2 linked regions of the Homo sapiens genome follow. The protein of the gene in region 1 interacts with the protein of each later gene in a biochemical or structural test. Each region holds a gene or a part of one and is shown on either strand. Other genes may lie near its edges.

The links. Proteins that work in one complex are often made in the same cells at the same time.
Region 2: the proteins of ANAPC2 (region 1) and PTTG1 form a complex in vitro, tested with the Homo sapiens proteins (2 studies listed by BioGRID, with this or other methods).

What each region holds. Positions count from the first base shown.
Region 1 is NC_000009.12:137,174,273-137,178,577, reverse strand, and holds the end of ANAPC2 (anaphase-promoting complex subunit 2), read left to right. Parts: intron 1-461; coding exon of another isoform or gene 462-510; intron 511-796; exon of another isoform or gene 797-2,740; coding exon 2,741-2,870; exon of another isoform or gene 2,871-3,062; coding exon of another isoform or gene 3,063-3,105; coding exon 3,106-3,341; exon of another isoform or gene 3,342-3,423; coding exon 3,424-3,636; 3' UTR 3,637-3,794; downstream 3,795-4,305. UniProt on the Homo sapiens protein: Together with the RING-H2 protein ANAPC11, constitutes the catalytic component of the anaphase promoting complex/cyclosome (APC/C), a cell cycle-regulated E3 ubiquitin ligase that controls progression through mitosis and the G1 phase of the cell cycle.
Region 2 is NC_000005.10:160,417,047-160,424,854, reverse strand, and holds the start of PTTG1 (securin), read right to left. Parts: upstream 3,001-7,808; 5' UTR 2,964-3,000; intron 2,946-2,963; exon of another isoform or gene 2,554-2,945; 5' UTR 2,543-2,553; coding exon 2,452-2,542; intron 2,147-2,451; coding exon 1,962-2,146; intron 619-1,961; coding exon 525-618; intron 1-524. Other genes in the region: pre-mRNA-splicing factor SLU7, read left to right, coding at 5,802-5,832. UniProt on the Homo sapiens protein: Regulatory protein, which plays a central role in chromosome stability, in the p53/TP53 pathway, and DNA repair. Probably acts by blocking the action of key proteins.

The DNA of each region.
Region 1 (4,305 bases):
GGCCCGGCTCCGTGCTCGGTCCCTTTCCCCCTGCCCCTCTGGCTGCCTCAGGCTCTCCAGCGTTGCTTCCAGGCAAGGCCCCAATGGCCTCCCTCCAGGGTCCTGCCTTGGGTCCCAGGCATGACTCAGCCACTTCCTGTTGCTCAGGCCTGATGTGCTGGGACAGCCACACTCTAGTGCCCTTTGTCTTAACTTCAGTGGGACACAGGAGTGGCTCAGGGAGGCCCCGGGGCTGTGCTGAGAGGTCCCACCAGCAGAGCTCCTGGCCGAGCGACCTTGTTGGACACGTGGCTGGCCATGCAGCCCACAGCGTCACCCCTGAGCCCTTGCATGTGTCCTGCGGCAGGCTGACCAGTGGCGGCGTTTGTGGAGGTCATGGCCTTGGAGCCAGAACTAGGACCTAGCAAGCCACTGACTCCACTTCCATTTTCTGTCCATAAAGAGGGGTTTGTTTCCATTAGAAGCTGCCGGATCCTGGAAGGACTCAGGAGCCCTTGGCCCACAGAGCAGGTGTGTCAGTGCCCCAGTGCTACCAGAACAAAGTACCACAAACCAGCGGGCTTAAAAGAAACATATCATTTTACAGAAGTCAGAAGTCTAAAGTCAGGGTCAGCAGGGCCCTCCGAAGGCTCTAGGGGAGGCTGCTTCCTCCCCTCTTCCAGCTTCTGGGGGCTCCAGGAGCTCCGGGGCCTGTGGGTGCCTCGCTCTGGTCTCTGCCGCGTCGCCCGTGATGTTCCCCCGTGTCTCTGTTCCTATCTCCCTCTTAGAAGAACACTCTCTCTATTCCAGGGTGACGTCATCTTAATTATATCTTTAATGACCGTATTTCCAAATAAGATCTCATCAGAGGCACCGGGAGTTAGGGGTTCATGTGTCATTTTTCGAGGGGCACAATTCAGTGCATGACAATTTGCCCCATGGTGGGCCCCTCCCACGTGCAAGTGACAGCCCCAGTGTCCCCAAAAGTCTTCACCATTTCAGCATCAACTCCAAGTCCAAAATCTCATCTAACTACCATCCACACAAAGTTCCACACACATCTCAGCCTGTAAATGCATCTTAACGAGGTCCAGGTGAGGCTGGAGTGTGCGCCATTCCTCTACGTAAATAGATCTAAACAAGGTACAGGTGAGGCTGGAGTGCGCGCCATTCCTCCAGCTGGGACGCCGTGAAATCAGCCAACAGATGATCTGTTTCAAAAGTTCAGCCGTAAGACAAGCATACACATTCCCACCCCAAAAGGGAAAACTGGGAGGAAAAAGGACAGCGAGTCCAAACCCAGCAGCCGAAATTCCACTTGACTTCCAGGCCTGCGAATCCTCTTTGGCCCCCTGCTCCGTCAGCCTTGGCCTCGGCGGCTCTGCTCTTGGAGCCTGCCTTCCTTTCACTCCAGCCTGGCAGCACTTCTGCGGGTGTAAAATTCTCACACCTTGTTGGCTTATGCAGCTCACCAGTGCCGAAGCCTTCAGACAGGCGGGTCCGCAGCCCTTTCCCGGAGGCCCCACCTGTCCCTGTCTGCTGCTGAGATGGTTAGTTGGATACACAGGTCACACCTCATGTCTAGCAAACCCTGGTCCAGCCACACCCTTGGCCACGTCTCAGAGCTGCCTGGATAGAGTATTTTTCAGATCCCCAAGGGCTGGTGCCTTTTTGCTTAATGGTCCCTGCCTCACTGATTGTTTCCCTCTTGCATTCTGCTATAAGTAGCAAGGAGAAGCCAGGTGGCACCTTCCACACTGCTTGGAAATCTCAGCTTGATGTCCAGGCTCATCAGCTGCAGGTCCCACTTCGCACCCAACAGCAGAGCAGCAGCCAGCCAAGCTCTCTGCTGCCTCCTCCGGTTCCCAGTAGCACGGTCATTTCCATCTGAGACCTCACTGGAAGCACCTGTTGGGTCGGCATTGCTGCCGACATCCAGTCTGTGATGCTGTGTGCATTCTCCAAGACGGCGGCAGCTCTCCTCTTCCAGCCATTTCCAGGCTTGTCTTCATGCCTTTCTACCAGCAGTCGTGCAGGCCTCACCAGTTCTTCCAGCCTCTCCCCATCACCCACTTCCAAAGCTGCTGCCACAGTTCTTGGTGTTAGGTTTTGGCAGCACCCCTCCTGGCCCTTCCTGGTACCAAAATCTGTTCGTTTACTGTGGCTGCTGTAACAAAGTGTCACAAACTGGGTGGCTTAAAAAACAGAAATAGATTGTCTTAGTTTTGGAGGCTGGAAGTCCAAGATGAAAGTACTGGCAGCCCCGTTCCCTCTGAACCCTCTTAGAGACCTCCGTTGCCCCCCAGCTTCTGGTGTTTGCCACAGCCCTTGGTGTTTCTTGGCTTGTGGCCGCGTTGCTCCAGGTGGTCTCTGTCTTCGTGTGGCCCCCTCCCCGCCTGCCTGTGTCTTCCTATCTTTCCTTTTCTTAGAAGGACCCCAGTCAGTTGGGTTAGGATGCACCTCAGTTACATCTGCATCAACCCTGTTTGCAAATATGGCCACATTTCCAAGCACTGGGGGTCAGGAGGCCCCTGTAGCCTTTTCGGGACACACCTTATGATGCTGGCCCCATTGCCCTTCCATGGTGGCTGAGCAGGTGGGGACCCCACCCAGTCCTGTGCTCTCGCTGCTCACCTGCCTGCCAGGGTGGGGTGGGGCAGGTGGCTCTGGGAGCCCCTTTCTCACTGGTACCAGGTGGCAGAGCCCACGGGCCTGAGCGCCCTGCAGCCGAGCTGCCCGTGCTGACCCTGGCCCTCCTTAGGCCATGCGGACCCTCAGTTGGAAGCACACCCTGGGCCTGGTGACCATGGACGTGGAGCTGGCCGACCGCACGCTGTCTGTGGCGGTCACCCCAGTACAGGCGGTGATCTTGCTGTATTTTCAGGACCAAGGTGAGCCCACCAGCCCCTAGCTGGCCTGCCCCGGCCACACGGCCCAGCTGTGGGTGAGGGGCTGTTCCCCAGTGAGGGTGTGGTTTGGGGCAGCTGCGCCAGCAGGCGGCACCCTTCCCTTTCCCACGGGCAAGGCAGGGTGGCCCGGGAGCCCCCCGACCTCTCGGCTGACGGGAGGCAGGGGAGGTGCAGCCCGTGCCCAGGCTGCCCAGCGTCCCGGTGACTCTGCACGCAGCCAGCTGGACCCTGGAGGAACTGAGCAAGGCGGTGAAGATGCCCGTGGCGCTGCTGCGGCGGCGGATGTCCGTGTGGCTGCAGCAGGGTGTGCTGCGTGAGGAGCCCCCCGGCACCTTCTCTGTCATTGAGGAGGAGCGGCCTCAGGACCGGGACAACATGGTGCTCATTGACAGTGACGACGAGAGCGACTCCGGCATGGCCTCCCAGGCCGACCAGAAGGAGGAGGAGCTGCTGGTGCGCGTGCAGGCCCCACGGGGGGCCAGGGGGCGGGGGCGAGGCCTGCAGGTGCCTGACGGGGGCTGGCCTGTGTCCGCAGCTCTTCTGGACGTACATCCAGGCCATGCTGACCAACCTGGAGAGCCTCTCACTGGATCGTATCTACAACATGCTCCGCATGTTTGTGGTGACTGGGCCTGCACTGGCCGAGATTGACCTGCAGGAGCTGCAGGGCTACCTGCAGAAGAAGGTGCGGGACCAGCAGCTCGTCTACTCGGCCGGCGTCTACCGCCTGCCCAAGAACTGCAGCTGACACATCGCCCGCCCGCCCGCCCGCCCGCCAGGCGCTGCCCTGCAGGTGCTCTCGTCCTCCCGTGCCAGCCCCCGCCCGCCCGTGTCCCAGAATGCACTGCTGAGGAGCATGCCCACCCCCACCCCCGCAGTGTGCAGATTAAAGCAAGTCAGATCATCCTTTTCTGTCCTGGTGGCTTTGTGGGGCCCCCCAGGATCCTCCTCTAGCCTGGGCCTCTCTCTCAGCCTGGCAGGGCCTGCTCCTCAGCAGCAGGTGAGGGGCCACCTAGGCCTACACATCTGCACTGGGAATGTAGCCTCCTGAGAGAATCCCGGGCCGCCCCCGACCCAGGGTGCTCAGGGAGCGGCACGTGAAGGTCCACGTCACGCCCGGGCCACGGCTCAGGCAGCCACGTCCTAGGGCTTAGTGCTTGCTACCCGCCAGACCTCCAGCTCCATTCCTGCGCCTCTGGCCTTTAGAAGGAGCCCTGGGGTCACCCTCTGCTCAGCCTGTGCCCACCTCCACACGCTCGGCCAGGAGGTCTCGGGCGAGGTTGGGACGTTGTGCGGGTTCGGTTGGAATTGCTGAGGCTGGCGAATGACCTCTAGGCCAACACGCCTCGTCTCTGGCAGTGAGGCTCTGCCGAAGGCTGTGCCCTGGTGGCCAGAGGGACTGGGCACTTGTCCCCTG
Region 2 (7,808 bases), on another chromosome or scaffold:
GCCTGACACACAGTAGCTTCTCCTGAAATGGTTGAGTAAATTAAAGCTTGAAAAGCTGTTTCCAAAACAGAAAATACTTCAGATACATGTAGCAGGTTGAAGAAATTTGAAAAACATGTCTTCACTGTCTTATGTAGATTTTTCAAACCAAAGAAATAATCCTACCAAATTACTCTCAGGCATTGCTCAACTTGACATAAAGCTCACTTCTAAAAGCCTTGTGAGAAAGACTGTCCACAATGGGACTTATTCAATGTTCATGAATACATCTTACCTCCTCTAGGTGATAAGCTTTTACAGACAGGAACAATGTCTTCTACATCTTTGTTCCTATTCCCCTCCTGACCTAAGATGATACCTTGCAAATAATTCCATCAACAAGTACACTTGTCCAAAGCAACCCAGATTCAGACAGTCTCATCATAGTTTTTGGTCATATATTATATTCATAACAAGTTACAGCTGAGCTGAATACTAAGAAACTAAAGGCCAAAAGCACTTTTCGCAATTGCAAAAGATACTACCTAGAGGATTGAAGGGAAAGAATTTTTCTATTTCTGGATAGGCATCATCTGAGGCAGGAACAGAGCTTTTTGCTTTAACAGTCTTCTCAGTCATCTAGAACAGCCAAAGAAAATATGGGTTAGTGACAGTGGAAGTCTTATTAGCTGATTAGTTTTTAAATTTGTCAATTTCATGCTGCCTTCTAAGAAGCCATAATCCTTAGTTTTCATAATTGCACCTAAATATACTTCAAATAATATGATTCAAATGTAATTCGAGTAGCATGACTCAAAAGTTAAAATCTGAAATTTAAGTACCAGCACCTGTCAGCATAAGTGATCAAGAATGCAGTTAATTCAGAGCTAATCAATGCAATTATTCAACCTAACAGAGGAGAAAATGGGCATGAATCACCCAGGATAGTAGCTAATCATCAAAGCCATTTTTGGCTTATAGGAGTGTGATTTTTTCCACAAGTGTTACCTTAAATTATTTGCTTGGTTAATATTAAAAACAAGTTTGTGTTCCTCAAATACACACACTGAGTAAGAGGCAGCAAGACACTGTCAAGGACTTTAGAATAAACACCATGGGCAATCTTCTAGTCTGGAGTTGACAGGTCTACTACAGTCTACTATAGAAGGGTGCTACAATGGAAGCCGGCATGTTCCTGCTTTATCTCACCTCACATATGCATGCCTAGAATTCCCTATGGGGTTCTCACACTTCGGTTCTGTGTCTCATTGTTTTTGCCATGTCTTTGCAATTCCTGTATTTAATATTTTTCTTTAAGTTAATTCACTTTTTAAAGAAGACATCTTTGTCCTAAGTTGCACTATATGTAATTCACTAGTTGTTTCCTAATGCAAATTAAACAAAACAGTTATTCAAATAAAGTGTTAATCCACATGCTAATGTCATCTTTCACAGCAAAGTCCTCTCATCTGGGATACACAGACCTGTAGCTTGTGACTCACACTCACACGAAGATCAACATGCTAGCAAATTGTCACCTAACAAGCTGCTGCTTGCCCTGGAAGGCTAAGAGAATGGCAGCACCTGTGCTATTAAAGCAGCAACAGAACCTCTTAAGGCACCCTCTCTCTCAGTATGTATCTGTAAGTGGATACCACCAACCAGTTTCTCTTAAGGCACCCTCTCTCTCAGTATGTATCTGTAAGTAGACACCACCAACCAGTTTCACGACACTAGTGAAGGACAGGTGAGGCAAAAATATGCATGAGGCAAAAATATGCATTAGCTGCATCTGAGATTTCCAATCTCAAGGTACCAAGAAGTCCACAAGGACAATCTGAGTCTCCTCCACTACTCTGCTTGCTAACCTCTATTTCCCTTCTACTCAGAGGGAAGAAAGCTACGTAGGATGATGCCAATAGTCATTTTAAGAGTCAAAAGTGCTTAAGTGTTTAAACAGTGTCTTTATAGCCAACACTTACCTTTTTGGCAGAAAAGCTTGGCTGTTTTTGTTTGAGGGGTCCCTTGGTCTTTACAGACTTTTCTGTAGCTCTGTTGACAGTTCCCAAAGCCTTTCTAGTAGCTTTAGGTAAGGCTGGTGGGGCATCGAACGTTTTGCCAAAACGTGGTGTTGAAACTTGAGATCTCCCATCTAAGGCTTTGATTGCTGAAGAAAAAGTCTTACCATAAGAATATTCCAGCAGCAAAATACCTGTACAACTTAAATACTGTGTATATAAACTTGACCTCTCACCCCCAAACCCACCCCCCACTTTTGGTAGTGGCATGGCTATGATAGGCCTAATAGCAGAGATTCAGTAACTTCCTTAAATCATCTCATTAAGATATTAAAAATGAAAAAGGACCAATAACAAACGACTCCAATTGCCCAAAAAGTACACTAAATGTCTCGTCCAGCTCCAGGCCACGTCCACAATACCAGTGTATCCGACTGCAGCCTTGTATACTTACAAGGTCCAGACCCCAGCTTCAGCCCATCCTTAGCAACCACACGGGTGCCTGGTTCTCCATTTTCCTTATCAACATAGATCAGAGTAGCCATTCTGGATTATTCTAAGAATGAGAAATACATATTAGATATTGGGGAAGGTGGGAGAAGCAAAGGTATAGCAACATACCAAACTTTCTATCCTAGGAGTGTCCACACAAAAAACAAGAGCTAAACAGCGGAACAGTCACGGGCGTGAGCCAACAAGTACTTAATCCAGCTCTCAAATCTTCCAGCCTGAGTCAGAGGCTCTAAGGTCCCGAGCAGCGCGCGGTTTGGGGCTGGCACTCATCAGACAGTTGCCGTTGGTCCAGTTAGCAGTCCGAGACCACGCTCAAACGGGCTCGGAGCCATCTAAGCCCCGGGCAGTCCCCCAACCCCAGCCCCAGCTTCAGCCCCAGCCGCAGCCGCAGCCCGCCTCCTTCCCCGCCGGAGCCGGCTCAACTAACCACCCGCGACCCTCCCATTCACTCACGCAGGTCTTAACAGCCGCATTCATCTGAGGCCGCGGTGAACGGACGCGGCGCACTCCTGGTTTAAACCACAACTCGCGGCCCAATTGGCTCTTCCGCCCAGGAGGCGGGGCCGTGGGCGTGGTCACCAAGTAGAACCAATGGAAAGGACCTAAGCAGCCAGGGCTCCGCCCCAAAAGCTCTTTCTTGCAAACTTTGTGGCACGTTTTCTGGGAAGAAAAAACTAGGATCGTGTAATATTAAAAAATAAATCGAGAGGCTTTTTTTTTTTGCTCTCCATATTATTAAGCTGCATGGACTGAGGTACTGACTCAATAACAATGGTTTATTGCTTTAAGATATTTTTATTTAGATGACCCTGTAAAAAGGATGGAAAATAAATAGAAATATTGAAGAAATAGGGGAAACAACCAATGTTGGGTCTAAAGAATACTAGCAGAGAAGAATTTAAAATTAAGAAGAAATGTAAGTACAGGTAGATCAAACAGCAGCGTTTGAGTCATTCTCTTATGCTTATGATTAAGAACGAACTGATCGTTCCCTAATCTTAGGACTATCCTCAATACTTCAGGCTAAGACACTGTTTCTATTATACCATCACGAATCTGTCTTAGGAACAAAATTATGATTCTAATGAATACATAATTTAGTCTTCCCTTAAAATTCTATCCTTTGATAGTGATTTATTTTAAACCTCTAACATCTCAATAATATATTAACCAAAGTTGCCTGGAAGGGCTTGGCCAGGGAGCAAGAGAATATCAGAGAGATAATAAAGATATAAAAAAGGAATTCCAATTTCCCAGATATGAAAAGAAATTTTGCTTGAAAAAGTTGACGACCTTTTCCTGTTTCTATAGTAAAATGGAATACATTGAACAACTACAAGATGAAGATATAAATTAAAACATAAGGCTGACCTGTGTCATTCAAACTCCGCTTCCCACAGTTCACCATATATGCATTTTAAGCTGCAGATCAGCTGAGAGAGAGGAGTTGATTCCATATTACTCTTTCACGAAAGGCTTGACACTATACCTGACATAGACATGGTTCTCAATATATGCCAGTTCATCATCTCTTTTTCCCTGGCATTTCAGGACCAATATTGATTGAATGATTCATTCATTCACAAATATTTATTGAATACCTATTAAATGCTGGACATTATACTAGGTTATAAGAAAAGAGCCTAACTTAAGGTGAAGAAAAGAGGAAAGACAGAAAAATATGCATACCTTTATTGTCCCTTCACTGTTCTTTTTCCTTTATCCCCATCCTTTATTTCCTCCTGTATCTCCTAAATTTTACATCATCATATTATATTATCAGCACTCAAAGTGTTAATTTTTAAGACTAAATCTGCACAACACCTATAGCTTCCAAGTGGGGATTCTCTATCTACAGAGGTTTTGAGGTGCAAGGTTTGTCTTAGGATGTCTTCTTTTTTTCACCAACAGAAAGCATTGTTTCTCCTAAGGTCATGCAGCAGCTGTAAACCATAACCACCCTCTCTGAATAACCACTGTTTTCTTACTAATGATGCCCTCAGACCAGCTTTGCTATTCCTATTACTGGAAATACTCAATTGCTAAACCACCCTCACTCATAACAGCACTTAGTCCCTAATCAGTTTCTCCCAATCCTTCTTTACAAACAGCAACCCATCCAGAACCAATCCCGGCTTTCCTAGACCTTCCTCAGAACCCTCCAGAGGGACCTCAAGTCTTAGAAAAGATTCAACTGTCTTGTCCTGCGCTTTCTGATTCCTCTTCGAGATGCGCTCTCCTGGTGGTTTTGGCTAATTAGGCCTTAACACTCCTAAGCAAATTTCAGGAATATTTTTAAGTGGAAAAAAACAAAGCCTGAGTGATTCATAGACTCTATTCACTTTCACGCTAGTCTCTGACACTGTTTCTTCATCTACTGCCCTGTAAAAGCAAAATTAATATTTATGTTCCTAAACTCCAGGTATTGCAAATTCTTAATACGAAAAAAATAGATTCTATTATGTTGGGCTATTTTATTGAGGCAGGAATGGTAGCTACTTTTACTTTTACATTCAAAAAGGATACACGTTATGGGGGGGAGGGGGAGAACAACCAGAATAGAAAGCACAAAGAAAAAAAAAAATCACAAGAAATTCTACCACGAAAATTAGTTTATTTTCCAGTGTTTTATTTCACATGTATACTTTTAAAGAAGGGATGGGATAGCATAGATACTGTTTCTCCAAAATGGAAATTGTCGTATTTTTTTCTAATGATAACATGCCTTATGTTCTCACAGCACCTGGTATTCTTTTCATAGCAACTTTTCACAGCTGCTAAATCTGAATAGTTGTTTCGGTGTCTTTCGCACTCTGATGTAAATCTGAGGGAAGACACTGTTCACCAAATCCCCAGCATGTTACACAGCCTGGCTACTAATTAGTGCCAAGTTTAACTGCTTTTTTTTTTTTTTTAAGCTGATACGTCACCAACTTCCCCATTCATTTCATAGTCCCCTGGTGAGGCTTAAGCTCTTGTCTGTTCTGGTCTTTTTTTTTTTTTTTTAACTTCCTAAAATTCTCCGATTCTAAAAGAAAGCTCCTAAATAGAAGCCAAAAAGTAGCCGCCCAACTTGAAACTCCCCACAAGCCGGGTAAATAGCGCGATACGCAGCAGCTAGAGTTCTCGCGTTTCCCACGGCGCAGGAGCACTGGAGGGCCCCCCTCCGCCCCCGGCCCCGCCAGGAAATTAGTGCGCATGTGCCGGTCATCCGGAAGTTACCGCAGTGGCCGCCGGAATTAGGCGAAAAGCCGGAAGTAAACATTACGAGATTGGCTTGGATTCTGTCGGATGGACTTGGGGCTAGCTGCGGCGGGGCTGGGTAAGAAAATATTGTTAGAACTTGCGGGCGACGGGGAGTTGGGGAACCTGAGAAAATGAGTCGAAGGCTCCTAATTATTGGATATATCTTCACGGGGGTGATGAGCCCTCAGGTGTTGAGGGAGCGAGGACGGGGGACCGAAAAGCCACTGTCCTGAGACCCATTCATGGCACTCGTGCCCTGCCAGGCCAGGCCTGCGTCTTCAGGGAAACAGTCGGGATAACTATGAGAGTGTCGCCTTTGTGGCGGTGCCTCGAAGACCTTGAGCAATCCCCGGACTGCGAGCAGGGAAAGCTGCTTCCAGTACCCAAATTGACAGACTGTATTTCCTCGCCAGAAAAATTTACTTGAGCTTCAGTTTTTCCTGTTAAGTCGAGATGATCCGACTTCAGTGGGGTATCATGCGGGTATAAATGAAAACATCTATGTAAGTAAAGCGCTAAACAGTGTCTTACGTAAGCCCTCAGTAAGTGGGAGCTATTACTGTTTTTAGTTGGAGAAAATAGGTCCCTCCACAGCGACGGAAACTAGTGCGTACAACTTGGTGACTATAATACTTTATTCAGTTTTAGTTTTTAATATTTTAGGCCCAGAAGCCAATGTTCTGTGGACAAGTATAACATACTGGTTTAGAGAACTGACTTTGGAGTCAGAGTTGTGTTTGAAGTCCTTATTTCTTACTACAATGTGTTCTTGGCTGAGGATCTTACCTCTCAGAACCTGTTTCTTCACTGTAAAATGGTGTTCATCAGACCTATCTACTGGGCTTATTGTGAAGATTAGATGAGGTGATACACGGTAGGCTCGAGAAATGGTAGCTGTTTTAATAAAGATTAAATTTACCGTTGTTGTGCTTCTCTTCGCAGTATATTTAGGCCATCAGTTTATATGTTACACAAATATATGTGGAGGTTTTCTATAGGTCAGACATAGAAGAGAACACCTTTGAGAAGCATCGTAGACCCCCAGGCATTGAGCACTTTCCACTGGGAAAGAGCTTGTGTAAAGGCCCAGTGTCTACAGGGAGCACGGTTTGTTAGAGGAACTAGAGGAACTACAAGAAGGTCTATGTAGTTAGTAGAGAAGGAAGCGGGGATAGTTGTAATGGTGAGGCTGGAAGGTAGGCAGGTGCCAGACCATGGTGGACCGTGTAGGTGTGTTAAAAAGATGTCAGTTTTTAGAGTACGAATGATAAAATCCTTTGGAGCGTCATTTTTTTTTTTTTTTTTTTGAGACGTAGTCTAGCTCTGTCGCCCAGGCTGGAGTGCAGTGACGCAATATCAGCTCACTGCAATATCGGCCTCCTGGGTTCAGGTGATTCTCCTGTCTCAGCCTCCCGAGTAGCTAGGATTACAGGTGCACGCCACCACGCCTGGCTGATTTTTTTGTATATGCTTAGTAGCGACGGGGTTTCGCCAGGTTGGCCAGGCTGGTCTCAAACTCCTTACCTCAGGTGATCCGCCCGCCTCGGCCTCCCAAAGTGCTGGGATTACAGGTGTGAACCATCGCACCCAGGTGTCACTATTCGTTATGATAGTTATTAGCCACTTGTGGTTATTGAGACTGGAAATGTGATTAGTTTAAATAAGTGTAAAACCCATATCAACTTTTAAAGACAGAGTTGTTTTTTTTCTAATTCAAATTTGCAATTATAATATGTTGGATATATTACATTAAATAAAATCTTGTAAAAGTAATTTTACCTGTTTATTTTTACTTTTTTAATGTGACTACTGGAAAACATAAAATTACATGTGGGACTAGCATTGTATTTCTCTTAGATGGTGCTGTATTGAATTTTTGGACGGTACTGCATTGGAGGATTTTAAGCTTGGGCAGTAGGACATTGTATTAATCTGTTTTCACATTGCCAATGAAGACATAGCCCAGACCTGCCAATTTACTAAAGAAGTAAGTTTGTTGGACTTAACAGTTCCACGTGGCTGGGGAGGCCTCACAAACATGGTGAAAGGTAC